Linked DNA regions of Homo sapiens: region 2 is linked to region 1. The links come from fine-mapping of genetic effects on gene expression. A gene starts in region 1. The other region holds a variant in brackets. All regions are shown on one strand. Distances are between the middles of the regions.

Region 1 (12,316 bases):
AAACTTTTCCATCAACTTTGACCTAATTTCCTGGTCACAGATTTGAAGGAGAGGAGCCACTAAATTCTTGCACAGGTGAGAAAGGGGCGGAGAGTTCAGGTGAAAGTCACCCTGGCAATAGGGAGAAATAGAGACTGACACTTTGGTAATGAAAGAGAGACAAAGAGAGGGAGGAGAGTGCTATGGAAAATGAAAGATAAACGAAAAATGAGGATTGAAATGGAAAAGGATCTTTTAAATCTCACTTTCTGTTAAATTCACATTGATTTTAGTTTGCTTATTATTTATTTATTTTTGAGACAAAATCTGTCCCCCAGGCTGGAGTGCAAGTGGTGCAATCATAGCTCACTGTAACCTAGAACTTCTGGGCTTGAATGATCCTCTTGCCTCAGCCTTGTGAGTAGCTAGAGCTACAACACCCCACACTGATTTCATGTAGAATTTCCAGGAGCCTGTTATTTGGAATTAGTTTGTGGAAGTCCTCAGAAAAATCAATTCCCAAATAAGGACCAGGACCAGATCTGTGCAAATATTTAAATTGGCCATCCCAGGGTTTCTCCACCTGTCGGTTCTTTAGGAATGAAAATCACTGCTGGGCGCCATGGCTCACACCTGTAATCCCAGCACTTTAGGAGGCTGAGGCGGGTGAATCACGGGAAGTCAGGAGTTCGAGACCAGCCTGGCCAACATGGTGAAACCCCGTCTCTACTAAAAATACAAAAATTAGCTGAGTGTGGTGGCTCATGCCTGTAATCCCAACTACTCAAGAGTCTGAGGTAGCAGAATCGCTTGAACCTGGGAGGCGGACATTGTATTAAGCCAAGATTGGGCCACTGCACTCTAGCCTGGGAGACAGAGCAAGACTCTATCTCAAAAAAAAGAAAGAAAGAAAGAAAGAAAGAAAATCACACCAATTAAACATGGGATTGTGGTATTACTCTACTACTATTACCCTACAAGGAATAGGAACCATCAAATCATCTAAGGGATGAGGGTGAAGTTGAATAGTTAGCAAACATTTACTGAGTTATGTGCTTGGTTAGGAACTGTGAAAATAAAAAATGGTTAGCTGCCTCCAAAGAATTTAATACTCATAACTCTATAACCTCTTAAGTCCTGAAGTTATCCTTGTTAGTATATAAATCAAGTTTACATTGGGAAGAAACCCTATGATAAAACCATATTGTAAAAAGGGGATCTTCAGCTGAGTGTGGTGTCTCACGCCTGTATTCCCAACTCTTTGGGAGGCCAGGGCCAGCAGATCACTTGAGCCCAGAAGTTTGAGGCCAACCTGGACAACATGGCAAAACCCGAACTCTACAAATAATCAAAAAATTAGCTGAGCGTAGAAAAAACAAACACATACACACACACACACGCACACACAATTAACTGAACGTAGTTGTGTATGCCTGTAGCCCAGCTATGTGGGAGGCGGAGATGGGAAGATCACTTGAGCCCAGGAAATCAAGGCTGCAGTGAGCTAAGATCATACTACACTCCAGCCTGGGTGAGTGAGACTGTCTCAAAAAAAGGAACCGCCACTCTTTTCTTTCAAATGCCCTCATAAACATCATCTCCCTGTATTTCAAGAACCCATGAACTCCAAAACTGAAGGAATTTAGTAATGATTACCTATGGATTTGGAAAACTAGTTTAGACAACCGGAAAATCCCAGTATAGTTGTTCAGTGAATCTGAAACATGCCTCAAACGGTTTCCCTCTTCACCTTCTAGCCCCCACTCTGCCGACATTCCTTAGGGTCCATAGGGAGTGTTTTCTCCACAAGGTTTTCATTAGTGTGGATTGTTAAGTAGAGGAAAACTCCTTTAGACACACCTTCTTTCCAAAAACTTTTCCAAAGCCATCTCACAGACATTTTTTTTTCCATTAAAAAAACTTTATTTTCATTTTTTACAAAGAATATCCCCATCTGGGGTAAAAATATATCTGGTTAAGTACAAAATATAGTCTTTACCATACAAAAAGATACATAATACAAAAACATGAAACCAACCATCTTCAGCCCACACTTTCTGGCTGTAATAACTCTCAGAAAAGGGTGGAGCTCAGTGCTCTGACACAGGACAGTGAACAAAGTGCTATGGCTGAGAGTGACTGACCAAGTGCTGGCAGCTGCAGTGAGGGGCCAATATCCCTATCTCCTAACACAGGGCAGGAAGGGGGTTCAAAGGGCTTTTATGAAGACCTGCCCTCTAGTTTCTCATGGCAGTATTTGGAGGTTCTGATCACAGGGTTGGGCATCTTGATCAAGAGTTCCTCCTTGGGTTTGAAGTCACAGTGGGCAAGGCTGACAGCAGCAACCCTTTCACATGATTTAAGCGTTAGAATTATATAATTCTGTACATTGGGGCAATCTCAAAAGTAGTAAAATTTTTTTTGTCTTTTGGCTTAACCCTAGAGACACAGTAGACCAGTTTCAGCTTACATTTAAGATGGCAGAAGGGGAGAACAAAAAATTTGACAGGAATTAAAGTGCTAAGAACATCACCTTAGAATCAATTCCAAGGACTTACATGAAGAGAAAACCATCCTCCCATATGAAAATATTTGCAGTAGGAGAACACAGTGCAATAGGCTCCAAAAATGGCTTTTAAGACCTTTGGTGGGGCAGTTACTACTGCTTTAAAAGCCAGGTTAAAGTATACTCTAAGCAAAGATGACCGTAGAGCAGCTAGCTTCCTTTTTTATAATCACAGGGAAAGCTCTCTCCATTGTCCATCAAATCAGCTCTAGAAGGTTTTTCTTTTTTTTCTACAAGTGCACAAAGGGGAAACACTGATTTTAAGAACCTCCTTTTCCCAAAGTTTTGGCCACAATTTCCCTTTTCATCTTCCTAGTTTGTTAAATTGGCTCTTCTCCACATGATACGTAAGTTCAAGGTCCAAAGTTCCTATCACAATTTACAAAAAGCCTCCAAAAAACCTTGAAAAGCTTACGCCAGGAGGCCATTTTTACCTGACCCGAAACTATCGAAAAGGCCTCAATTTTCAAGGAGATCTGAGAAAATGGATGGGCCTGAGTTTTTCTAGTTATTTTTAAACCCATCCAACAAACACCCCTGTATCACAACATGGGCGCTGGCTGAGGATGAGTCCGCATCCTTTAAGGCCCAGGAGATTGCCTGCTGACCACCTCCTACATTAGGAAGTCAGAGGCTAAGGTGGACCCACACTCCATTGCAGAGACTGTTGAGTCTCTGAAAAAGTGAGTGTCCAGGAAGAGAGACAAAAAGAAACAAGTAGGTAAAGCTGCTTCTTTTCTTCCACATGCTCACTGCACATTGTTGTTGAGGATGCAGGGATCCACCTAAAGAAAGAAACAGACTATTTCAGTTCAGGTAAGAACAAAAAGAACAAACCAGTTTAGCAATCCGTCTAAGTCAACTTCTTATAGAAAGCTTAGGACAAATTTAACAGTAAAGATGACAATCCTCACCTCAGTATAAGTCGGTGGTGGCATGAACTTGAACTCAGGGGCATACATAAAGATAGGGCTGTCTTGAGAGCCATCCATGTCATCTAGCAGAGGAGTGGTTGGGCTCTCCAATCGGTGATCTTCAGGAATGACATCCATATAGCAGGGAGGAGCTAGAAAAGAAAATATGGCCACATAAGAATCCTGCCCAAGAAATGCTGGACCATCACAATTTTACAAACCCAGGTAGACCAGAAACAAAGAAAAGACATTAGGTCTGGCTCACCTTCTGGGGTATCAGGGATGTTCAGATCTACCCAACTCATCTCAGAGCTGGTTCGGCTGGCCATGCTGGATGTTCTGCTGCTTAGACCTGATCTGCTGCCAATTACCAGGGGCAGGTCAAGGATGACCTTCTTGGATCCAGGAACGCTAACATAGATCTAGAAAGGAAGATGGCAGTTTATTACACCAGAGGTCTGGAGAAACAAGACAGCTGTGGTAACAGATGAACAATTTCTCTGCTGAAGCCACCCTGCATCTACCCACCAGTAAGGAATATTCAACTCGAAGGATGTTGCAGCCCAGGATAGAAGGCCTGATCTTCTGAACCCGAAGGCTCTTGCCACGCCATGATGCGCATGTCCCTGAGATAATATGATTGCCTCTGACTGATGACAACTTCTGAGTCAGCACCTTGGTCTGGCCATTGGCAAGGTAAGTGTGGCGGGCCACAATGGCAGCTTTGGGGACCACAATTCGGGAACATGTATTCTCAAAGTCAGCATGGATGGAAATCTCATCACCTAGCAATGAGAAAGATGAAAACTTACTGATACTCAGTATAGTTAATGACACTTCCTCTACCCCAGTCCCATGCCCTTGCCCCTAAACCCAGTTCCTGTTTTAACTGCCATAAGCACTAGGATTTTACCTTCACAGAATCCTTTTCTGTCAATTCGAGCAGAGACAGACACCCGCCCATCAGGAATGAACATGCAGGAAACTTTCTTTTCTTTTTTAGCAGACACAGGTGCCTATATAGAAGGGGATAAAAAGGTGTTTTGAGATGCTTCAATCTAATGCCCAAGACGTCTGATTTATCATCCTCATGACCCAGGAGAATAGAATCTTTAAAATGGATCTCACCATTAAATCAGGGGTATTGACATCCACCAGATCCACTACTTCAAAGTTTTTCTTTGTCTCTTGAGTTGGCTGGCTCGGGCGGTCAAGAAAAGCCTTCACCCAGTAGTCTACACACCCATATTTTCCTTTGAAGGATGTTCCCAGAGGCCTGTGTCAAGAAAATGAAAATTTTAAAACGCTCTCCAAGAACAGTAAGTGATCAAAGGAGGGCAAGATATTTTAGACAGAAAAGTTCAAAGATGCATTTAGCTGATATTTACCCCTGAGGAAGCTCAAAGCCGAACTTGTACTCATATTTGTTTCCAGGTCTCATGATCACCATCTCATTCTCACCTGAAGGGAAAGAAAATCGAGTAGCCATTAGGCTTGCTGTTACACTTAAAATGCATCTGTGTGATAAGGAATGCTTGGGTGGCATGCAAGGTATTGAAGTACCCCCAATTTCATCCCATATATATATTTTTTAATCCATCCCATATTGTTCTTAAAGAGAAATTCTGATGTATTTTGTCGGGCAGCAAGTTGCCAAGCCCTGCAATACTGAAAGATTCACCCAGGACAGTTCTCTACTAACATCTCAAATAGGAAGTAGACAAAGAATAAGCAACTTATGCACACATAAGACTTTAACTACCCGAGGCAACGCCCCTCAGGATCCCCTTTAGGACACAGCACCATAAAAAATTGTACAAATCACCCTTTTTTTTGGGGGGGGAGGAGAATGTCTGCAAATTAAAACAGAAAAAAGGAAGCAACAACACGTAATTCAAACCACTCAAACTGAGCAACTTAAAACATTTCGTACAGGTTTTGTGTATTCAATTCTCTTCTCTAATCAGCTTTCACCCTCCAACAATGAATTGGGCCGCTTACCTGTTGGCTGGTCTTCCAGAAGAAGCGTGTCTTCATAGCGCAGGTACTCCGAAGTCTGTTTGCACTGCTGGGATCCCTGCATCCAAAGCACTTTAGCCACTCCGCAAGCCAGGATCCTAACGGCTTTGACACGAGTAACTTCACACACCTCCACTATCACCCGGCCAGCCACCTTCTCGCCACTGCCGTACACCTTTTCAGGGTCGTTAAAGACCACCTCAAAAGACTTGATCTTCTTGAACATCACCATGATGGAACTGAGTTGGTTTTAAGAGTTAGAAATGACGGTGGAAGAAAAAAAAAGCTCCAAATCGAGGAAACCCCTTTGCAAAAAATTATTTCACTTTAAGGAATTAAGGTATTCTTAAGCAGTTTGAGCTTAAAAATAAAATAAGATTTAAACAAATGAATATTAACTACTAGGTTTTCGAAAAGGCGCCTAAAAAATATACGCCGCTGGTTACACTAAGCTAATTCAGAGAAAAAGCCTTCTTTCCCCCAATTGCTGGAGAAAAGATCCGATCTCCACAAGCACTCCTTTGGAGAAAAAGAGGGGTTAGTTTCAAGCAGGAGGCGGAAACGTCTCTATATAGTAGCCCGGGCCAGAAGAGCCACGCGAGCGCTGGCCCGGAGGCTCGTGCTGCCCTCGTGCACATCCCTCCCATTGGCTGCCCGGTCCTTGTTTACCAGGAGCCCGACCAATCAGTGAGATCGCTGTGGCGCGTGGACACGGTGTGCTCCTGGCTGGGAAAATGGTTGTTGCGCTCTGGAGCGGCGCAGGGAGGGGGGAAGGAGAGGAAGGAGAGGAAGGAGGGGAAGGAGGGGGCTGTTGAGCGTCTTCTCCCGGGTCCAGTGGAAGGAGGATCCCACTGACCCTAAAACCTAGCCAGGGCGACAGGCCATCGGAGGGCGGGTGTGGACGTTTCTGGTCTGAGAGCGGTGTTTTGAGGTAAAAGGAAAATGTGCTTATGAGGGAATTTCATGCCTAGTCTTAGCCAGTGCAGTTACTTTAGAGCCTGTCGTTATTCCTGGCTCATAAATAGCAAGTGTGTGAAAATCCCATAGCTCCAAGAATACTTTCAGGTTTGGGGCTGTGGAGCGCAGAATGCTTGGTGTTACTGTTCAGGAACAGCCCTTTGTCCTTCTCTTGCCCCGCATCCCTATTAAGTATAAAAAACACCACCGTCTCTGAGGGAAAGGAGAACTTTCAGGCCTCATTGTGTGTGTAGGACCGATGTCTTCTCCTTCCCGTTCCAATCCCTTGGGGCTAGGGCTGGGGGCTGCGTGCCTGTGCTGTTCGTCACCCACCCCCAGCTTGTACCCTCTCTTCTGTTCTCTCTGTTCTGTGGAACGGAAATAGGAGGGGCGTGTTTACATCCTGTTGCTTATCCTGTCATCTCTTCAATTTCTACCTGCAAAGTTGGGGAACACTTTGTCTGTGTTCCCCATTTACCTCATTACCTCTTTAGTGAGGTGTGTCCAGGCGCTCATTATCTCCCACTTCCTACCTGCTTCTGGAGGAAAAGGAAAAGCGGGAAAAAAAGGATGCTTCACTCTTTTCACTTTTTTCCAGTTATGTTCACTCTTTCTTGTCTCCATCCCCTCTTCCAACTCACTAAATCAAATGTACATCCATAAATCTGGTTAAAAGTGAGAAAGTCCTCTTGTTTATATCCAAATTTTCAGTGGAGAGATGGCCACACACCTGTTTGAAGGAACAATTTTAAAAACTATTTTCAAAGGTTTTTCCCTAAACGGTTTAGAAAACAGTAAGAAGGAAAAGAGAAGAAAGATCGGTCAACAGAGCACTATAAATTCAAGCCAGAAGAGACCCTACCCTCTCTCTTCATTCTTTGTTGGTTTCGTTTGGCCAGCTGTCAGATGGATTTTCCCCTGCTGGCTGTGAGATGCTTTAGGAGCTGAGTACTGAGAACTTACTCTTAAATGTAATAGGAAAAACCTGTATGCAAAAGTGCAGGGATTCTTCCTCCTTTTATTTGATTCATAGACCCTTCCTATATCTGTGCTGGGGTATCAGAAGATTATTATTTAATTCCTTGTGCTGGAAAGAGGAAGATAATGTCCCAAGATTGAGATGGGGAGGTAATTAAGAAGCATTCAAGTATATTGAAACCCTACCCAATCAGCAAAAAAAAAACAATATTCATTGCTGTTAAAGAGCCTTCTTCCTTCCTCAGACAGCCTAGCTGGATTGACACTCTAAGGCTAACGAGAGTTACAACTCAACCCCAATATTAAGCAAGCTCAAGAATAGGCATCATGAGTCTCTTCGAAAACACACACATGCATTAAACCCCAGGAACATGTTGATCCTTAGGGTGTGTTTGAGGCGGCACCCTGTTCTAGAAACTTAACCAGCTAGGCTTGAGGTGTTTTCAGTTGGTTAACAATATTGATTGAGTTACTGGGAGCAGAGGAGGTGGAACTCTGACTGAAGTAATTTTTTTTTTAAGGTGGAATCTTGCTCTGTTGCCTAGGCTGGAGTGCAGTGGCCTGACCCCAGCTCACTGCAACCTCTGCCTCCTGGGTTAGAGCGATTCTCCGCCTCAGCCTCCTGAGTACCTGGCATTACAGGCATGCATCACCACGCCCAGCTAATTTTTGTATTTTTAGTAGAGATGGGGTTTCACCATGTTGCCCAAGATGGTCTTGAACTCCTCCTGACCTCAGGTGATCCACCCGCCTTGGCCTCCCAAAGTGCTGGGATTACAGGCGTGAGCCACCGTGCCTGGCCTGACTGAAGTAATTTTAAAAGTTCAAAATTGTGGCTTCTGGGAGAACGTTTAGTTTGATGGGTATGAAAGTGTAACTATCAAACATCAAAATGCTGACAAATATATGAATCAATATTGTTAACTACATAGTCAATATTGTTAAATATTGTTAAATCTTAACTACATACATTTTGAGGGAATAGGAAAGATGGTGGCTAGTGATGGATCAGGGTGGTGGTAATATGGGACATCTTAAGACATCCAACTCTCAACCAGGTTGGAATGCAGTGTCACTTGGCTCACTGAAACCTCCACATCCCAGGCTCAAGTGATTCTCCCACCTCAGCCTCCCGAGTAGCCGGGACTACAGATGTGCTCCACCACGCCTAGGTAATTTTTGTATTTTTGGTAGAGATGGGGTTTCACCATGTTGGCCAGGCTGGTCTCAAACTCCTGCTCAAGCAGTCCGCCTACCTGGCCTCCCAAAGTGCTGGGATTATAGGCACCCTTTTCCCTTTCAATTTATTTGATATTTATGTGGGCACATCTCTGAAGTACTGAATTGCTGAGTTTTAAAAAATCCTATGACAATTCTCTCGTTCTAAGTTTCTCTTCTGGGCTCTGGTTTCCTTGTATCTTCCCATTTGCAGAGCTCACTACAGACTACGTTGCTCTGTGTTATGCCTGGGTTCCTTTAAATGCCAAAAAATTATTTAGCTTTGGCAGCAGCTGCTGCCTACCAGGCCTGTAGCCAAGGCATGTTCTGAAGTGGAGTCCTCCTGGACACGGTTGTTTACGACCTTTCACCTTGTAACCTGGTATTCTGATAAAAACCTGCCCCGATTCTCCTTTCCCAGTTCTTGGGTCTAAGAAGAAAGAAATTTTGTAAACTCTTGTCCTAAAATCAGGGTATAAAAACACTTGTGAGGTTTGGGAAAAGGGGTGGGCCAAGGAGGAACAGCAAAGTAGGGCACAGTCAAAGAGTTTTGCAAGTTGGATCATCTTTATCTGCCCCTTCTCTACCCTCTTCAGTCCCAGTGCCAACAGGAAACCAAGTGGTGATTGTTGTTTGTTTGCTTTACTGCAGGTGACAGAATAAAGCCAGCAGTTTCAGGGAGGGAAGTGCCCTCAGCACTTTGTTGCCAGTCAGAGACAAGACACTGATTGCATTTCTCTTTTCTTTAACCTCTGGCCTGACAAACATTTAGAACATGAAGACTCATAGTTCTTAATGCAGAACAAAGCCCTTTCTTGGTCCTTTTAATCACTTCTCTCACCTCTACTCTGTAAACTTCCCTTTTACCCTTACCCATTTTCCTTTCTCTCTCTCTTTTTTTTTCCACATAGGGTCTCACTCTCAACCAGGTTGGAATGCAGTGTCACTTGGCTCACTGAAACCTCCGCATCCCAGGCTCAAGTGATTCTCCCACCTCAGCCTCCCGAGTAGCTGGGACTACAGATGTGCTCCACCACGCCTAGGTAATTTTTGTATTTTTGGTAGAGATGGGGTTTCACCATGTTGGCCAGGCTGGTCTCAAACTCCTGCTCAAGCAGTCCGCCTACCTCGGCCTCCCAAAGTGCTGGGATTATAGGCACCCTTTTCCCTTTCAATTTTTTCCCTAAGGAATTTAGAGGCAAATTAAGAGTTTGAAGACTGCCCCAAGTCATAGATCAATAAGAATAAATTAACAATTGTAAGCCAGGTGTGGTGGCTCATGCCTGTAATCCCAGCACTTTGGGAGGCTGAAATGGGAAGATCACTTGAGGCCAGGAATTCAAGAAGATCACCCTGGGCATTGTAGTGAGACCCCATCTCTCTTTAAAAAAAAAAAAAAAGGCTGGGCGCGGTGGCTCACGCCTGTAATCCCAGCACTTTGGGAGGCTGAGGCAGGCAAATCACGAGGTCAGGAGATTGAGACCATCCTGGCTAACACAGTGAAACCCCGTCTCTACTAAAAATACAAAAAATTAGCCGGGTGTGGTGGCAGGCGCCTATAGTCCCAGCTACTCGGGAGGCTGAGGCAGGAGAATGGCGTGAACCTGGGAGGTGGAGCTTGCAGTGAGCCGAGATCTCGCCACTGCACTCCAGCCTGGGCGACAAAGTGAGACTCCATCTCAAAAAAAAAAAAAGAATTGTATAGCATGTTAGAGTTCCAAGTGACTTTTTAAGTAATTGCCATTTATTGAGCACCTATAATGAACCAAGTCTTTTATATAATTATGTCAGTGATAATTATCTGTCATCTGTCATGTTGTTCTAGAAAGTATTTGAGGTTGGCCGGGCGCGGTGGCTCACGCTTGTAATCCCAGCACTTTGGGAGGCCGAGGCGGGCGGATCACGAGGTCAGGAGATCGAGACCATCCTGGCTAACACGGTGAAACCCCGTCTCTACTAAAAATACAAAAAAAATTAGCCGGGCGTGATGGTGGGCGCCTGTAGTTCCAGTTACTCGGGAGGCTGAGGCAGGAGAATGGCGTGAACCCGGGAGGCGGAGTTTGCAGTGAGCCGAGATTGCGCCACTGCACTCCCGCCTGGGCGACAGAGCGAGACTCCGTCTCAAAAAAAAAAAAAAAGAAAGTATTTGAGGTTAGATTGTTTCATTTAATTCTCTCAATAACCTTGTGACTCGGTGTTGGTTCAGTCAGGCTCAGAAGTGAAGTAATTTGCCTGAGGTCACAGATTTTGTAAGTAGAGCAAGATCTTGAACCCGCCCATGTCTGTCTAAAAGTATGTACTATAAAAATGTGTTGTCTTGGCTCTCAGTGCTTTGATACACAGTATCTTGTTTGATTCTCACAATAGTCTAATAAAGGATTCAGGGCAAGACTCAGAGAATTTTAGAGTTAAATGGGACTGTAGCAGTCTTTTATTTTTTTAAAACCAGTTCTTATTTTGGTTAAGTGACTTGACCTGGGACATAAGCTAGTATCTGGTGGAGCCACTCTCCAAACCCAGGATTCTCTTTATTATCTATTTGTTTATTTTGTTGTTGCCCAGACTGGAGTACAGTGGCACAAGCATAGCTCAGTAGCGGGAACTACTAGGAACACACACCATACTCAGCTAATTTTTTTTTTTGAGAAAGGGTCTTACTTCATCACCAGGCTGGAGTGCAGTGACATGACCATGTCTCACTGTAACCTCAACCTCCAGGGCTGAGGTGATCCTTCCACCTTGGCCTCTTGAGTCAGCTGGGACTACAGGCACATGCCGGGCTAATTTTCATATATTTTGGTAGAGATGGAGTCTTGCCATGTTGCCTGGGCTGGTCTGGAACACCTGGGCTCAAGCTATCCACCCACCTTGGCCTCCCAAAGTGCTGGAATTATAGATATGAGCCACCATGTCCAATCTTGTTTGTTAATTTAGTTTTAACTTTTAAAAATATCTCATCTGGAGGCCCACATTTCGTGTTTACTGAGATCAATTTTTCTACCATGATAAGCAAAGGATAGAGATCTCAGTATTGTCCAATGTCATGGCAAGATGGGGAGAGGGGCTGAATTAACTTGTTTGGAGGTATTGTAGGCTCATTTAAGATAGTTCTTTTTGGCTGGGCGTGGTGGCTCACGCCTGTAATCCCAGCATTTTGGGAGGTCGAGGCAGGCAGATCAACTGAGGTCAGGAGTTTGAGACCAGCCTGACCAACAAGGAGTAACCCCGTCTCTACTAATAATACAAAATTAGCCAGGTGTGGTGGCGCATGCCTGTAATCCCAGTTACTCAGGAGGCTGAGGCAAGAGAATAGCTTGAACCTGGGAGGTGGAGGTTGCAGTGAGTCAAGATTGCACTCCAGCCTGGGCAACAAGAGCAAAACTCCGTCTACAAAAAAAAAACCTAAAAAAGTTTTTTTTCTTTTCTGAAGGCCCTTACAATAACTTCCTAAAGGTAGTTCTTTTTCTTTTCTTTTTTTTGTAATTAGCTTTATTTACTTATCTATTTACTTTTGAGACAAGGTCTTACTCTGTCACCCAGGCTGGAGTGCGGTGGCGTGATCTCGGCTCGCTGCAACCTCCACCTCCCAGGTTCAAGTGATTCACCTGTCTCAGCCTCCCTAGTAGCTGGGATTATAGGCACCCACCACCATGCCCAGCTAATTTTTTGTATTTTTAGTAGAGGT
Region 2 (12,316 bases), 24 kb before region 1:
TACCATAAATAGCTCTTTGATGAATATCCTTTTACTTATATCTGTGACTGTATATCTGTTGATGTCTTTGGAATATATTTTTAAAGTGGGATTGCTGGATTAGGGATATAAACATTTCAAAGGCTGTTGATTTAACTGGACAAATTGCTCCCCTTGAAATATTATGTTTATAGTCTTTCCAGTGAGGTATGAGAGTGTCCATTTGAAAAAAAACTCATGACAGCCTGCTTATTATTTAAATCTTTGTCACTTTCATAGGTGAAGAGTGGTTTTATTGGCCATTCTCTCTCCTTTTTTTTTTTTTTGAGACAGTCTTGCTCTGTTGCCCAAGCTGGAGTGCAGTGGTGAGATCTCAGCTCACTGCAACCTCCACCTCCTGTGTTCAAGTGAGTCTCATGCCTCAGCCTCCTGAGTAGCTGGAATTAAAGGTGTGTACCACTGTGCCTGGCTAATTTTTTGTATTTTTAGTAGAGACAGGGTTTCTCTATGTTGCCCAGGCTGGTCATGAACTCCTGGCCTCAAGTGATCTGTCCACCTCGGCCTCCCAAAACCCTGGATTACAGGAGTGAGCCACCATGTCCAGACATGGCCATTCTCTTTGCCAGTTGCCTGTTCATGTCCTTTGCCCATTTTTTCTATTGAGATGATTTTTTAAAATTTGGATTTCCAAGATTTTAAGGGTGTTAATTTCTTGCTTTATTTATTACATGTATAGCAAATTCTACACATCAGCGTGCCCCAGGCCTCAGTGCCTGGATTTCTTATTTTCTCTGTCCACATCCACTCCTTTAGGGGTCTCACCTAGTCTCATGGCTTGAAGTATTGTTTGTTTGCTGATGCCTCCACTGGAATGAAAGCTCCATTTAAACCCCGTGGGTGCAGCATGTTTTTGTCTGTTTTGCACACTGCTATATCCATAGAATCTAGAACAGTGCCTGGCACACCTAGTAAGCACTCAGTAAATATTTGTTGAGTGAAATGATTCTATTATTGTTATTTTTATTCCCATTTTACAGATGAGGAAACAGGTTTAGAGACAATAAATAAATTACCAGAGTTTTGTAGCTAGGAAATTGAACTGGGATTCAAAACCATATTCTTAACCTCTACATGTACTGCCTTCCTTAAATTTGATGTAATTGTTAGTGTTTTTCTGTATGTTTAGTTGAAACCTGCCTCTCAGTAACTTCCACCACAATATATATGTATGAATAATTGGGAATGAGCATAGTGTATATGAGTGTTGTTTGGAGTAAAACAGAGTACAGGGGTAAACTCTCTGGAAAGGTTGATGTTAAGGAGGAGCAGATTGTGACTAGATTATGGGAGACCTTAAGTATCCTCAAGAATTTTAACTCCATCACAATCTTTAATAGCAGAGACTCCCTATAGATTCCTAAGATGAATGGGGCAGATGGATGGTTTATTTCCCAACCTGTATTAAATAAAATTTTGTCTTCTTTTTCCCCTGCATTCTTAGAGGATCACTCATTTAATGTGTAGAAATGGTGTGGAATTTGTCTAACCTCAAACTCATGGCCATTTATTGACTCTTCATTGCTTTGCAGTCACAGCAGCTCCTATCTCCACTGCCAGAACTATATCTGTCAAGTGGAAAGATACTTAACCAGCTGGTTAGAATGTTCTCTCGCTTAAAAGGGGCTGAAGACACGGTGACAAATTCTTTTTTTTTTTTTTTTGAGACAGAGTCTCGCTCTGTTGCCCAGGCTGGAGTGCAGTGGCACAATCTTGGCTCACTGCAACCTCTGCCTCCTGATTTCAAGTTATTCTCCTGCCTCGGCCTCCTGAGTAGCTGGGATTACAGGCGTGCACCACCACGCCTGGCTAATTTTTTGTATTTTTAGTAGAGACGGGGTTTCACTTTGTTGGTCAGGCTGGTCTTGAACTCCTGACCTCGTGATCCGCCCACCTCAGCCTCCTAAAGTGCTGGGATTACAAGCATGAGCCACCACGCCCAGCCAACAAATTCTTATTATTTCTCTAGTCTCCATGAGACATCTTCTCTCCCTTAATATGCTCTTTTCAAACAGATTGCAATTTGATATCTTAACCAACAGCCATTGTTTCCTCAATTTTTTTTATGGCAGTTGGGCTTGAAACTTCCCAGATTCCTCAGATATACATTTTTCTACCCTCTCCTAGCTACAGATTATTAATCTCATTTAGTATTCTGTTACGACATTTAAATTTTATTTATCTATTTATTGAGACACGGTCTCACTCTGTTGCCCAGACTGGTGCACAGTGGTGTGATCATAGCTCACTGCAGCCTCGACTGCCTGGGCCCAAGTGATCCTTCTGCCCTGGCCTCCCAAAGTGCTGAAATTACCTCCATGAACCACCACAACTGGCCCATTAAAAAAAAATTTTTTTGAGACACAGTCTCGCTCTTTTGCCAGTCTGGAGTGCAGTGGCGCCATCTCGGCTCACTGCAACCTCCACCTCCCGGGTTCAAGCGATTCTCCTGCCTCAGCTTCCTGAGTAGCTGGGACTACAGGCGCACACCACCATGCCCAGCTAATTTTTGTATTTTAGTAGAGACGGGGTTTTGCCATGTTGACCAGGATGTTCTCGATCCCTTGACCTTGTGATCCACCTGCCTCGGCCTCCCAAAGTGTTGGGATTACAGGCATGAGCCACCATGCCCAGCCAAAAATTTTTAAATTAATATTTTAATGTTGTTATAGTATTCTATTCAGTATAGAAAAAAACAAAGCATACATAACCTGGCTGGGCATGGTGGCTCATGCCTGTAATCCCAGCACTTTGGGAGGCTGAGGCAGGCAGATCACGAGGTCAGGAGTTTGAGACCAGCCTGGCCAACATGGGAAAACCCCCTCTCTACTAAAAATACAAAAATTAGCTAAGCATGGTGGTGGGTGCCTGTAATCCCAGCCACTCAGGAGGCTGAGGCAGGAGAATTGCTTGAACCCGTAAGGTGGAGGCTGCGGTGAGCCGAGATTGCACCACTGCACCACTCCAGCCTGGGTGACAGAGCAAGACTCTGTCTCAAAAAAAAAAAAAAAAAGATACACAACTCTCCCCACCAGAAAAAATTCAAAAAACCCTCATCCTTCAAATTAACCGTTGTTAATTTTTGGTACATATCCTTCTATAACAGATTTTTAATTCATATGTGTGTATGTATTTCTGACAGAAGATTACCTTCTACATATTATTTTTAAATATTTTTTTCACCAACTAATCTCTTGGGAATTTTGAATTGCTACTTGATTTTTGTTTTAGCTTTTTGTTTTGAGACAAGGTCTCTGTCACCCAGGGTGAGTGCAGTGACATGATCATGGCTCACTGAATCCTCTTATCTCCCGGGCTGAAGCGATCCTTCCACCTCAGTCTCCCACGTAGCTGGGACTACTGGCATGTGCCACCATGCCTGGCTAATTTTTTTATTTTTTGTAGAGATGGAATCTCACTATGTTGCCCCGGCTGGTCTCAAACTCCTGGACTTAAGTAGTCATCCCACCCCAGCCTCCCAGAGTGCTGGGATTACAGGTGTGAACCACCACGCCCAGCCTCGAGTTTTTTTTGTTTTTTGTTTTTGTTTTAATTAATAGATTATATATTTTAGAACAATTTAAGACTTACGGAAAAATTTAGCAGATAGTGCCAAGAGTTCCCATTTGTCCCAGTGCACAGTTTCCCCTATTAACATTGTAGATTGGCCGGCCGCGGTGACTCACGCCTGTAATCCCAGCACTTTGGGAGGCTGAGGCGGGTGGATCACGAGGTCAGGAGTTCGAGACCAACCTGGCCAAGATGGTGAAACCCCGTCTCTACTAAAAATACAAAAACAAATTAGCCGGGCACGGTGGCGGGCTCCTGTAATCCCAACTACTCGGGAGGCTGAGGCAGGAGAATCGCTTGAACCCGGGAGGCGGAGGTTGCAGTGAGCCGAGATCGCGCCATTGCACTCCAGCCGGGCAACAAGAGCGAAACTCCATCTCAAAAAAAAAAAAAAAAAAAAAAAAAAAAATGCCGGGCGCAGTGGCTCATGCCTGTAATCTAGCACTTTGGGAGGCCGAGGCGGATGGATCACCTGGTCGGGAGGTGGAGACCAGCCTGACCAACATGGAGAAACCCCCTCTGTACTAAAAAAAGTATAAAATTAGCCAGGCGTGGTGGCGCATGCCTGTAATCCCAGGTACTCAGCAGGCTGAGGCAGGAGAATCGCTTGAACCTGGGAGGCGGAAGTTGCAGTGAGCCGAGATCGCGCCATTGCACTCCAGCCGGGCAACAAGAGCGAAACTCCATCTCAAAAAAAAAAAAAAAAAAAAAATTGATTCGTATATTTGTTACAATTAATGAATGAATACTGATACATTATTATTAACTAAGGTTGATACTTGATTGACATTTCTTTGGTTTTTACCTATTGCTCTTTTTCTGTACATGAATCCCATTTAGGATTCCACATTATATTTAGTTGTCACGTCTCCTTAGGCTCCTCTTAAGTGTGACGGGTTTCTCAGACTTTACTGTTTTTGATGACTGACAGTTTTGAGGAGTTGGGTATATTGTAGGATGCCTTTCTGCTGGAATTTGATATTTTTCTCTTTATTAGTGTGGGGTTATGGGTTTTTAGGAGGATGATCACAGAGGTGAAGTACCATTTTATCATGTAATTTTAAGGGCACATACCGAAAACATGATTTATGAGTACTGATGCTGACCTTGGTCATCTGGTTGAAGTAGTGTTTTTCTGGTCTCTCCACTGTAAAGATATTCCTCCTGATTTCCTAAATTATTGAATGAGGGCCGGGTGCAGTGGCTCACGCCTGTAATCCCAGCACTTTGGGAGGCCGAGGCAGGCGGATCATGAGATCAGGAGTTCAAGACCAGACTGACCAACATGGTGAAACCCCGTCTCTACTAAAAATACAAAAATTAGCCGGGCGTAGTGGCGTGCGCCCGTAATCCCAGCTATTCAGGAGGCTGAGGCAGGAGAGTCGCTTGCACCCGGGAGGCAGAGGTTGCAGTGAGCTGAGATTGCGCCACTGCACTCCAGCCTGGGTGACAGAGTGAGACTCTGTCTCAAAAAAAAAAAAAAAAAAAAAAAAAATATATATATATATATATATATACGTGTGTGTGTGTGTGTGTATATATATAGAGAGAGAGAGAGAGAGAAATTCCCTATACACAGTCCACACATAAGAAGTGGGAAGTTATAGCCAGTGCGGTGGCTCACGCCTGAATCCCAGCACTTTGGGAGGCCGAGGTGGGTGG[G/A]TCACCTGAGGTTGGGAGTTTGAGACCAGCCTGACCAACATGGAGAAACCCCGTCTCTACTAAAAATACAAAATTAGCCGGGCGTGGTGGCACATGCCTGTAATCCCAGCTACTTGGGAGGCTGAGGCAGGAGAATCTCTTGAACCCGGGAGGTGGAGGTTGCAGCGAGCCGAGATCGTGCCGTTGTACTCCAGCCTGGGCAATAAGAGCGAAACTCCATCTCAAAAAAAAAAAAAAAAAGTGGGGAGTTATGCTCCCCTGCTCCCTTTTAGGATGGAGTGTCTACATATTTTATTTGGAATTCTACATGAGAGATTTGTCTTTTTTCCCCCATATAAATAAATTCAGTCATTTATTTATATCACTATGGACTCACAGATATTTATCTTATACTTTGGGGTTATAATCTAATACTGCTTTATTTATTTTGTTCCTCAAATTGTTTCAGCTTTGGCCATTGGGAACTTTTTCAGTTGGCTCTTATGTCCCTTTGACATAGCCTCATCAATATGTTTATTTTTTTCGTTTTTTCTCCTTTTTGTTTGTTTTTCGTTTGTTTGAGACAGAGTCTTTACTCTGCCACCCAGGTTGGAGTGCAAGTGGTGCAATCATAACATTGCAGCATCAACCTCCCCGGCTCAAGCAATCCTTCCCAGTAGGGAAGGATCACCCAGTGACCACGGGTGCATGCCACCATGCCTGGCTAATTTTTGTATTTTTTGTAAAGACGAGGTTTTGCCCTGTTGTCCAGACTGGTCTCAAACTCCTAGGGCTCGAGTGATCTGCCCGCTCCAGCCTCTCAAAGTGCTGGGATTATAGCAATGAGCCGCTGCACCCAGCTAACCCATCAATATGTGAGTGTGGTTGTTGTTTTGAGCACCTCCTTACTTTTTGGCACCTCAAGATGCTCTAGACTCATGTTGTATATTTCCTACCCTGTCCTAGAATCAGCTAGTAGTCCAGAGAGCCCTGGTTCCTTTTATTGGAAAATTGTATGAGAAACCAAGATCTGGGTGCTAGGTGTGCTCATTGCTACTGGGATATCATTTCTCTCAAGTTTTCTTTTCATCTGGTGATTTTATTCCCCCATCCTAGCTGCCTCTGACTGGTTCCTCAGGATTGATGATAAGAGACAGAGTGAAAATTCGGTAGAAGGAGAAACTTTAGATTCATCAGTGTTGATCACAGTGGAATATACTGTCTTGGGGGGAGAATGGATACCATCTCTTTAGGGAAATGCCACCAAAAGCTGAATAACAATTCACAAAGTAGGGTCAGGGGTGGTGACTCACACCTGTAATCCCAGCACTTTGGGAAGCCCAAGCAGGTGGATCATTTGAGTCCAGGAGTTCGAGACCAGCCTGGGTGACATGGCGAAATCCTGTCTCTACAAAAAATACAAAAATTAGCCAGGCTTGGTGGCACATGCCTGTAGTCCCAGCTACTCAGGAAGCTGAGGCAGGAGGATCACTTGAGCCTGGGAGGCAGAGGTTGCAGTGAGCCAAGATTGCACTGCTGCACTCCAGCCTGGGCAACAAAGTGAGACTCTGTCTCAAGAAAAAAAAAAAGAAGACACACACATACACCAAACAACAACAAAACAATTTACAGAGTGAAGTCCTGCACTGGGAGGGGTTTAGACTAGATGACCTCTATAAGGGTCCTCCCAATTCTAAGATTCTATGCTTCCAAGTGGTGTTTAAAAAGATCAATTTGGCCTCTCGCGGTGGCTCATGCCTGTAATCCCAGCACTTTGGGAGGCTGAGACAGTTGGATCACTTGACATAATGAAATCCAGTCTCTTAAAAAAAAAAAAAAAAAAAAAAGAGCCAGGCATGGTGGCACACACCTGTAGCTCCAGCTACTTGGGAGGCTAAGGCAGGAGGATCACCTGAGCCCAGGAGGTTGAGGCTGCAGTGAGCCATGATCACACCACGGCACTCCAGCCTGGATGACAGAAAGAGACCCTATCTCAAATAAAATAAAATAAAAAGATCAATTTGATTGTAATGTGTCTTTTCCCCTGGTTTACAATGAAATTGATGACTCATCCCTGTGCTCCCACAGTGCCTGACACACTATCTTTTTCATGGTAGACGATTAATAAATGTTTCGCCGAATGCATTGCATTGGATTGAATTGGGGCCTGGTCAGGTTTGGAAGGCCAGAGATAGAAAGAATTCAAAGGTTATATGTAGAAATGCAGTTTGTGGCTGGGCATAGTGGTTCATGCCTGTAATCCCAGCACTTTGGGAGGCTGAGGCAGGAGGATCTTGAGCCCAGGGGTTCGAGGCTAGAGTGAACTGTGATTGCACCATTGCACTCAAGCCTGGGTGACAGAGCATCTCTAAAAATAAAAATAAAGAAATGCAGATAGAGATAAACATCAAATTGTCTTAGGGATGTAGAGTTTTGTCCAAAGGTGTCAGCACTTTCTCCTTTGTGCTAAACTATATTGTAATTATCTGACCTGTTTGGGGGACCATGTCTCATTCATGTTTATATTTCCAGAAATTCTCTCTCTGACACTGTGCCTTCTCAGTCAAAATTTGTTGAATGACATTAACTTTTCATGTCCCAGAGATAAAAGATTGAATGTCTTGTACCTCCTTGGCTTCCTGTCCATTCTACTACATTTCTTTTTCTCTTTGTTTTTGTCTTTATTAGGTTTATTCACTGGATCTCTGAATACCCAGGCCCCCTCCACCATGGCCAGCCGGGGTGGGGGCCGGGGTCGTGGCCGGGGCCAGTTGACCTTCAACGTGGAGGCCGTGGGCATTGGGAAAGGGGATGCTTTGCCCCCACCCACCCTGCAGCCTTCTCCACTCTTCCCTGTGAGTCTCTCCACTCCCTTCCCAGACTCTCATGTGCCCCTGGCTGACTGTACATGATTCTGAATTCCTCCTGGACCATCATAAAACCATCCTCGCTTTGGCCCTCTCTCTATACTCCCAATGCACAGGGATGTTTTGCAGGCAAAGAAGTGTCCACCTTTACTTCTCCCCAGCTTTCAAAATAATATGTTACTCCCTCGATTGTCATTTGGCCCTCTGCTCAGTGGGAGTGTTAGACTAAATTGGGAGGAGGGGTCTTCCTAAATTTGTACTAGCATTTTCTCCCTGAACTGACCACTGCCCCTGCCTCTTTAGCCCTTGGAGTTCCGCCCAGTACCTTTGCCCTCAGGCGAGGAAGGGGAATATGTCCTGGCACTGAAGCAAGAGCTACGAGGAGCCATGAGGCAGCTCCCCTACTTCATCCGGCCAGCTGTCCCCAAGAGAGGTCAGTTGGAATGCTAGCATCATATTCTGAGTGCCTTCCATGGGGAGTGCCCTGTGCTCAGCACCACTGGGGGCCAGAGGGGCACAGGAAGCATACTATCTAACTGGGGAGATCATAATAGTTACCCCTGTATCTGAAATGCATTATAGTATTCATGGTTTGTTTTGAGTCTCATGATAGTCTTGGGACAGCAGGAGGTTAAATATTAAAATCCCATTTCACGTGTATAAGTAGGGGGATGTATTTTCTAAAAAATTATATATTTTTTATTTTTTTGTAAAATAGAGATAGGGTGTCCTTATGTTGTCCAGGCTGGTCTTGAACTTCTGGGCTCAAGAGATTCTCCTGCCTTGGCCTCCCAAAGTGCTGGGATTACAGGCATGAGCCACTGCGCCCAGCAAAATTTTTAACAATCTGGATATTATAAGCACCAACCAACAAGAGAATACTGAAATCCTGGTTTCTTATTCCCTAGCATACTTTCCACTGCACCACGCTATTTCTTAATACAGCCATGCCTTTGAACTAAGGGACAGAAAAAAAAAAAATCATCATGGCCGGGTGCGGTGGCTTACGCCTGTAATGGCCAGCACTTTGGGAGGCTGACATGGGTGGATCACTTGAGGCCAGGAGTTTGAGGCCAGCCTAGCCAATACGGTGAAACCCTGTCTCTACTAAAAATATAAAAATTAGCCAGGCACAGTGGTGTGTGCCTGTGGTCTCAGCTACTCGGGAGGCTGAGGCTGAGGCTGAGGCATGAGAATCGCTTGAACCTGGGAGGTGGAGGTTGCAGTGAGCTGAGATCTTGCCACTGCACTCTAGCCTGGGTGACACAGCAAACCTCTGTCTCAAAAAAAAAAGGCCAGGTGTGGTGGCTCACACCTAGAATCCCAGCACTTTGGGAGGCTGAGGTGGGCAGATCACGAGGTCAGGAGTTCAAGACCAGCTTGGCCAACATAGTGAAACCCCGTCTCTACAAAAAATACAAAAAAATTAGCCAGGCCTGGTGGCAGATGCCTCTAATCCCAGCTGCTTGGGAGGCTGAGGCAAGAATTGCTTGAACTTGGGAGGCGGAGGTTGCAGTGGGCTGAGATCACGCCACTGCACTCCAGCCCAGGCGACAGTGCGAGATTCTGTCTGAAAAAAAAAAATCGTAATTTTGGGTGGAAAAGGAACAGGTTAGAAGAGTGATAAGGGGCCGGGCGCAGTAATTCACGCCTGTAATCCCAGCACTTTGGGAGGCCGAGGTAGGTGGATCACGAGGTCAGGAGATTGAGACCATCCTGGCCAACATGGTGAAACCCCGTCTCTACTAAAAATACAAAAATTAGCTAGGCGTGGTGGTGTGTGCCTGTAGTCCCAGCTACTCAGGAGACTGAGGCAGGAGAATCGCTTGAACCTGGGAGGTGGAGGTTGCAGTAAGCTGAGATTGTACCACTGCACTCCAGCCTGAGGGACAGAGCGAGACTCTGTCTCAAAAAAAAAAAAAAAAAAAGTAGATAAGGTCCTCACTGAAGCTGACCCCCTGGGCTCTGGGTTTGGGGTAAGGAAACAGATAATTCCTCAGTATTGAGAGGGCTGGACTCTCAGGAACAGTCCTGTTCTGGGTCTCTGAAGGGATAAAACTTTGACCCTTCCACCCCTCAGATGTGGAGCGTTATTCAGACAAATATCAGATGTCAGGTCCGATTGACAATGCCATCGATTGGAACCCTGGTAGGTGATGGGCCCTTTCATTGACTGCCCTTCTTTCAAATGCATGGGATGCTTCAAGCTATTCCCACCACGCCCATGACCCCACCCCATTCCCCGATCCAGCATCTGCAAGCTAGAGCCTTAGTTATGGTCCAACACATTCTCAGATTCTACCTGAAAAAGCTATTAAATAGTTCCCACTACTCAGGAGATATCCAAGCCACTGAACAACTTTGGCCCAGCCCCTTCCTTCCTCTCCTTTAAAACCCTCACCCCCCTTTAAAACCAGTCAGTATTCACTGGAGACCCCAGGCAGGGTCCTATTGACATTTACGTTCCCACTATTCCCAGATTGGCGGCGTCTACCCCGGGAGCTAAAGATCCGAGTGCGGAAGCTACAGAAGGAACGTGAGTGTATCTGGAAAAAAGGAGGGAGAAGAGAGGTTTCCTTCATCAGCCTGAGGGCCGAGGCTGCTGCTGGTCTCACCTTCCATCCCAGTTCCTATACCCAATCTACCAAGTGTTGTTGCTAGATGTCATAGTGGCCACATGAGGGCAGCAGAGTGACATGTTCTTTGCATGAGGATGGGCTATAAAGCTGGCAAAATTTGCTCTCTGAAGGTTTACCTTTTGATCCCTCCACCAGGGATTACAATTCTGCTCCCCAAGAGGCCCCCTAAGACCACAGAAGATAAGGAGGAAACAATACAGAAACTAGAGGTGAGGAGGAAGTGTGCATAGAGACCTCCTGAGCCCTGGATCCATTCCCTCTCTCTTGGCCCATGTGTGCCTCAATTTTTCCCTTCTGTGAACTGAACCTGAGTTTCTATTCCTATTCATCCCCACATGAGACCCTGGAGAAGAAGGAAGAAGAAGTAACTTCAGAGGAGGATGAGGAGAAAGAAGAAGAAGAAGAGAAGGAAGAGGAGGAAGAAGAAGAGTATGATGAAGAAGAACATGAAGAGGTGAAGGGGACTCCTTCCACCTTAGTCCCCCTCCCTTTACCCTCTTTATACTAGGGTTGCTCTCCTCAGAGGGTTGGCATGCCAACAGAGATAGTGCCCCCCAGGGTAGGGGCTTCTCTCTACTTCATCTGCCCCCCTTCTACAAACTACAGCTGGAAGAGATGTCTCAGGCCTGGAATGGTGTGACTGAGAGGAAAGGGGTCTGGTACACAGGAAGGAAGGTGAATGCCAAATTGACTTTTACTTTTTTTTTTTCCATTTCAGGAAACTGATTACATCATGTCATATTTTGACAATGGAGAGGACTTTGGTGGTGACAGTGATGACAATATGGACGAGGCTATATACTGAAGAAGGACTCTGGACCCTCGTGTCTTTCTTTAGGATACAGAGAGTAACTGTACCTATTATTTGTTTCTTCAGACAAGCAAATCATTTGGTCAGAGTTCATATAATCTGTCTGTTCCCTGGAGATGGGAATAGAGGATGATGACAGTTTATTTTCTACACTTCCCCTCCTTCCACATTTGTATCACCTTTGCTATCTTGGGGAAAGTGCAAAGGACAAACATCTCAATTGTATGAAGGGAGAAAGGAGAATTGAAAGAAGAACTGGGGTTGTTAGAGCTGAGATGACTGTACACATACCCCTGCCCAATTTATATAGCTCTTTGTGGAGATAATTAGGGGTGGGAGCAGTTTGAAGGAGTAAGCCTGGTTTTATACTTTTAAATAAAGTGTTTTTATCTGTCTCTCTGTTGTGGGTGAGGCCTGGTGACAGAGGGCTGGAGGAATGAAGGAAATGCTTAACTAAGCCGGGTCTGGTGTGACACACTGGAGGGTTACAGCCCTACAGCCCGCTTGTCCTTTGTCCCTTCCCTTCTACCCCCATGGTGGGACACATATTCACAATCGAGCCCAGCCAAGGAATATTCAAGGCCTCATCTGTAGGGCAATGCAAAGTAAATTGTAGAGAACAGCCTACGCCCCCTGCAGTACAGCTGACTTCTGAGCCTCTGGTCCTCAGGCCACAAGGACATGATTGTGTCTGTTCACACATGTTCACAAGGACATAGGTCCTGTCTTTCCCACACTTGACCTTGATCTTG

What was found.
Region 2: its variant is fine-mapped to the expression of TXNIP in whole blood (TOPMed, PIP above 0.99).

Annotation. Positions count from the first base shown.
Region 1 is chr1:145,990,557-146,002,872 of GRCh38, forward strand. It overlaps TXNIP (thioredoxin interacting protein), which reads right to left and starts at 6,023. Exons shown (of 8, transcript NM_006472.6): 1 at 5,461-6,023; 2 at 4,848-4,920; 3 at 4,588-4,735; 4 at 4,373-4,475; 5 at 3,988-4,244; 6 at 3,725-3,881; 7 at 3,460-3,611; 8 at 1,879-3,330. The coding sequence starts at 5,710. The coding sequence ends at 3,295. RefSeq lists enhancers at 2,152-2,231, 4,053-4,102 and a silencer at 11,674-11,881.
Region 2 is chr1:145,966,890-145,979,205 of GRCh38, forward strand. It overlaps POLR3GL (RNA polymerase III subunit GL), which reads left to right. Exons shown (of 8, transcript NM_032305.3): 2 at 7,936-8,102; 3 at 8,418-8,547; 4 at 10,195-10,263; 5 at 10,594-10,650; 6 at 10,889-10,962; 7 at 11,094-11,207; 8 at 11,472-11,959. The coding sequence starts at 7,977. The coding sequence ends at 11,558. Among named protein-coding and RNA genes, the nearest start is that of POLR3GL, 8.4 kb to the left of the region's middle. RefSeq lists enhancers at 9,183-9,682, 10,543-10,632, 11,613-12,316, 11,986-12,316. The variant G/A (reference allele first, on the strand shown) is at 5,269.